Linked DNA regions of Homo sapiens: region 2 is linked to region 1. The links come from fine-mapping of genetic effects on gene expression. Tissue or cell type: whole blood. Region 1 holds a variant in brackets; the other region holds the start of a gene. All regions are shown on one strand. Distances are from middle to middle.

Evidence for each region. PIP is the estimated chance that this variant, and not a neighbour inherited with it, causes the effect.
Region 2: MLEC starts here. The variant in region 1 is fine-mapped to the expression of MLEC in whole blood (INTERVAL, PIP above 0.99).

The regions. Positions count from the first base shown.
Region 1 is chr12:120,658,187-120,660,939 of GRCh38, reverse strand. It overlaps CABP1 (calcium binding protein 1), which reads right to left. Exons shown (of 6, transcript NM_001033677.2): 2 at 1,032-1,062; 3 at 601-744; 4 at 100-209. Among named protein-coding and RNA genes, the nearest start is that of CABP1, 19 kb to the right of the region's middle. RefSeq lists enhancers at 1,587-2,086, 2,087-2,588. The variant C/T (reference allele first, on the strand shown) is at 1,121.
Region 2 is chr12:120,686,029-120,688,541 of GRCh38, reverse strand. MLEC (malectin) reads right to left here and starts at 1,393. Exons shown (of 5, transcript NM_014730.4): 1 at 1,011-1,393. The coding sequence starts at 1,245. It overlaps LOC105370029 (a long non-coding RNA gene), which reads left to right and starts at 1,393. Exons shown (of 3, transcript XR_945449.3): 1 at 1,393-1,688. RefSeq lists silencers at 1,035-1,334, 2,175-2,274 and enhancers at 1,089-1,590, 1,685-1,814, 1,905-2,014.

The DNA.
Region 1 (2,753 bases):
CCCTGATCTGGGACTTGAGGCTCAGGCTTCTTTTGAAGTATTTATACTGCAGATAGGATTCCAATAGCCGCCCCATGCCTGCCTGCCTCTGTCCGTTACCTCTCGGAAAGCATCTCGCAGTTCCTTTACACCAATCATATCTGCTGTCTCTGCCAGGAGTTTAGGCCCCATTAGCTCCACGAAGTCATCAAAATCTACATGGCCACCCACTGGAAAAGGAGGAAAGGGCTAGGTCATCCCCGACATACCCATTCCCTGTCTCCAACTAGACAACTGACAGAATGGACAACCCCTCCTTGACCTGCTCATCAGATAGAGACAAACTTAATAATAACAAGAGCCCTCTGTTCAGTTCTTCCTGTGAGCCAGTTATTGGGCTGTTTTACAGATATTCCCTAATCTACTTTCTGGGCTCCACTCCTCCAATTCGGCCCTCATTTTACAGGTGAGGAAACTGAGGCTCAGAGAGGGTAAGTGGTTGGCCCCAGATCACAGAGCTGGTAAGAGGTGGATGCAGAATTTGAAGCCAGTCCTGTCTGACTGCAGAGGACGGCAAGGGTGAGGACCGAAGGGACGCAGATGCCTGGTAGAGGGACTCACGGTTCATGTTGATCTGCTGGGACAGTTCGATGAGCTCCATCTCGGTGGGCATGTAGCCCATGGTGCGCATGCAGTTGCCCAGATCCCGGCAGTTGATGTAGCCATCCTTGTCCTTGTCGAATTCTCTGAAGGCCTCTCGGAGCTCTGGGGAAGTGAGCAAAGGTGGATGTGGTCAGGGGTAGGACCCGCAGAGCCTCTGTGGGCAAAGGCAGCCCAAAGGCCCACCGGCATGGAAAGAGAGGCCCAGGAGCTTCCCAGGATGCTGGGGCATTTCTCTTGCCTCCTGTGCACACCTTCAGCAGCTGGTTTCACAGAAGATACCCCGCGTTGCACCAGGCCCCATTTCCAGGGGCCTCTCTTCCCATCAACCTCCCTTCCCACACCTTCCTAGAGGGCTAGGCAGTCCTTTCCCCCAAGGGGCCAAGTTTTACCTTCAATTTCCTCTGGTCGCAGTGATCTATCCTGAAACAAAAGAACATGTCCTATTAGCCGCGACAAGGGACCTGGAAGTCACAAAATA[C/T]CTAACCTGGGGGCCATCCACGTGGCAGCAGGCACTGGGTAGGAGGTGACGAGGATGCAGCACAGGTGTGCCTGGATCAGGTCCTTGAGGGGAGAAGAAAGCCCCACATCTCCCTTAGACATAGAAGCTCCTGGGCCCCTAACAGGAGATGCCCAAGAAGCCACCAGCCCCACCAGCCTGGGCACAGAACCTCTGTGCCTCCAGCCCCTTGTTCCAGATACAAGAATGGGTCAGCAGGAGTTTGAGGCTGTAGTGAGCTATGATGGTGCCATTGCACTCTGTCACCCTGGACAACAGAGTGAGACCCTGTCTCAAAAAAAAAAAACAAAAAAAGAATGAGTCAGAGAACAGAGCTTGCCTGGTGGCAAAAACCTGCAAATAAAACAGAGTCCAGGGAGGTCACAACAGGGAAAAGAGAGCACCACCCAATGAAACAGGAAGAGCAGGGCGACAGAGGCTGCAAGACAACAGAAGAGGCGCAGGAGGGGAGGGAAGGCAGGGCCATCCTGAAGCGAGGGTAGGAGGACAGGGAGGAGTCAGGAGGAGACGTGGCAACAGAATGGGGCTGTGACTGCTTCGCGGGCACTGCCCCACCTTCTCCAATTTGACCCCCATCCCTGTACGTTCCCCTGTCATGGGATCACAGGACACCACATAGGACCCCGGGGGCCACCAGTGCTTCTGGCTGGAGCCAGGGTCCAAAAAGCACATGTCTCCAGCCTCAAGCAGTGCCCAGGTCTCCTGGGCAATCAAGGCAACCCTGAATCTAGGCGTCAGAACAGATGGCAGAGACATCTCCAAGGAGCAGGCCTGGAGGAAGCTCAGGTTGGTGAGCTGCCAGTTGCCCTGGGCCTGCCCAGGAGGGAGATAGACTGGCATGAAATGGATACAGGTGCCCAGCTGGACCTGGTTAGTAGACTCCAAAAGTGGCCTTCAGCGTCCAGCCTCCCGCATGTTGCAGCTCTTTGCCTTTGGGCAGGGAGGACACCAGGCAGGTGTGCCCGTCCTGAAGAGGCTCACACAGGTATGGCCATACCTCCCACGAACACAGACACGCAGGCATGCCACAGTGAGCGTGTGGCACCTCCACTGTGCATGCAGGCCGTTCCAGCCAACGGGGCCAGGATGAGTAGAGACAGCCACTCCAAACTGGCCCCAGGACAAAAGACGACAACACCAGAAAATCTGCAGATCATCTAGAAAGGGAAGGGCTGCTGAGTCACATCTCATGGGACAACCAGGTGCATAGGACCAAGAGCTCAGAGGTAGCTCTGTGTGGCAGGACAGCGTTGAGAGTGTGTGTGAGCTTGGAGGGAGCAGGCTGCAAGCTCCCAGCTCCGCCAGGCTGGGGGTAGGAGTCACCCATAGGGAGGCGTGTCTCTGAGATGACTGCATGGACGTTCACCTAAAAAGCTCGCTATGGGCCAGGCACGGTGGTCCACGCCTGTAATCCTAGCACTTTACGAGGCCAAGGCGAGGGGATCACTTGAAGCCAGGAGTTCGAGACCAGCCTGGGCGATATAGTGAGACCTCGTCTCTACCAAAAAACCTTGTTTTAGTTAGCCAAGCATGGTGGTTCACGCCTGTAGTCCCAGCTACTCGGGAGGCTGAGGCAGGAGAATCACTTGAGCCT
Region 2 (2,513 bases), 28 kb before region 1:
CTCCTAGCAAAGAACTTCCTTCTGAAACCTGTTTTCCAATCCCTCCAACAGAAGAAACAAAGATTATAAAGCTGATCTTCCAAAACGGTGGTCTCGGGGCAACCTACATCACAAGCCCCTGGTGCAGAAACCTGGATCCCAGCAAAAAAGCTCAATCTACTATAATCAATTTCGAGTGGGGACTAGGAATCTGCATTTTTAACCAGCTGCCCTGGCAATTCTGACACACACTAACTTTGGGAAGGGAGCAGCTCCGTTAAAAACCACTGTTGCCCAGCAAGTTAAGTCACAATCATTTTCCCCCTAAGCTGGAATTAGAACTCTCAGGATCACCTAGGGGAGGTTGTAAGCATTCTCTGATAGACCATTCGGATTCTTACACTGGTTGACCCAGTTCACACACAGCCACCAGCCTCACGTGCAGGATGGCTTCGATAGAACCACCCTCTGGGGGCGGCCTGCCGATTCTACTTTTAAGCACACATATTCTTCGCTCGAAAAGAGGGCGGGGGAGGAGGCTACAATCAAACTTTCCTGGCCCATTCTCTTCGAAGATTCCTTCCTATTCTGGCTAAGAATCAAGCCCCGCTCCTGCAGAAGGGGCAAGGAAAGCGGCCGATTCCTGGGTCGACGAGAATCTCCCAAGAACTGTCTCGACAGGAGAAGCAGGGGCACCCATGACCTACAACCCGCGAGGCCTGGAGGTAGCAAAAGGCCGCCTTCGTCATTTCTCTCCCAGCTTGGATGGGAGTGAGGGGTTGAGAAAATGCAGGATGAGAAATCCAAATATAACTAACTTCTGGCCAACTCTCTGCCTGTATGACTCTAGGTACCTTGGAGCCAGTGCCAGGCCCTGAGCTCAGAGCGGGCCCCCGAAGAAGCTGCAGAGAGAAACTTCGCTCCAGAGACGCGGCCCCAGGGTCGAAAGGGGCTCGGGGCCCGCAGCCCCCGGCCGGCTGCGCCCAGCACAGCAGGCCCTGGATCCCGCGGCTCGGCAGGGGGACTCTCACCTCGGCCCACCCGGCCTTCCAAAGGGTCCTTGCGGAAGTGGATCCCGTGCACGTCCACATGCGCCTCTCCACCCGCGTTGACCGCCCAAATGACGCTCTCGGGCAGCCCGGCCCCCGCCGCGCCGGCCACGCCGGCCACGCCGAGCCCGGGTCCCCGGATCGCCGGCGGCAGCAGCAGCAGCAGCAGTCGCAGGAGCGCCACAGCGGTTCCCTCAACCGCCCAGGCTCCCAGCATGGCGGCCACCACCACGGGGGCAGCCCCCGCCGACCCTCGTCCTCGGCCGGCTGCCAGGCCACCCCGGACTCAGAAAAACAGCGCCACGGGCCGCTCCGCCTGAGCCGCCGGGGACATGTCGCTCTCAGGCCTCCTTCTTCTCAGCCACGGGTACCGCCTCCCACCTCAGGAACAACCTACCCCGCCGCCCTGCCCCCGGCCACGACGCTGCAGCCAATCAGCGCCCGGCCCTCATTAATTACCCACCACCCCGCCGGGAGGCGCCCGCTCATTGGCTGTCAGGCGCGGGAAAGGGCGTGGCTTCTCCCAGGCGCCGGCCCAGCAGTCGGGCACCAGATGGAGCGCGCGCAGAGGGAGTGAGTTCGGTTGAAGCGGCGGTTCGATGCGGAAGTGGCGGGTGCAGCGCCCAGGCGGCCCCGGAATCCCACAGCTGAATGGGAAAGGTGGCCTGGGGGGGGAAGGTTTAGGGTAGGGCGCACTGACATGTCGCCAGCACTTCCGGTGCTCTAGCTCCTGAGACCAAATAGGCTCTGGAGGGGGCGTGGCCGACTTTCCCGCCCCCTCTTCTTTTCTCAGGGAGCAGCATGAGCATAAATTCTAGTAGGAGAAGCAATGGACACTCTCCAGACCTAAGAGACGCAGTCCTTTTCCCCGCGTGAGGGAGAGGACCCATGCTTTCCCAGAGAGGCCGCGGACACAGGTCTCCAGGGAACGAATCCCATGAGAATAAGGCCCCGCCCCCTCCCCTTAGCGGGCTCGGGGCGGGTGGTAGCGTCCAGACGGCCGTCCAATGAGAAGGCTCCAACGCAGCGGAAACGCGTGGCTTTGAGAGCGAGTGGGTGCCAGGCTGCTCGCGTCTCCATGGCGACGGCCTCTGGCCGGCCTCCGCTGCGTAGGGGCGGGACCGAGGCACCCTAGGCGCTGGCGGGAGTCGCCGCCGGCGGTGCCCAGAGTGGATACCGGGGTTGTCCCGCACGGGCACGGCCCGAACTCCCTCCCTGCTCCTTCACAGTTCACCTGGCGCTCTCCCACACTGGCGATCCCTGCGCTTCGGTCGCTGTTCAAACTCCCATTTTTCCGATGGGGAAACTGAGGCATAGAAAGGGACTGAATTTTGCCAAAGGGTCGCACCGCAAGTGTAGGGCAGAGTCAAGGCAAAAACAAAAAAAACAAAAAAACGCTTATGCATTTTCCATAAATACTGGTCGATTTAGAAATTCTCCCTAAAAGGAAAAAAATGTATCAAGTCCCTGCTACCAGGGTTGTCA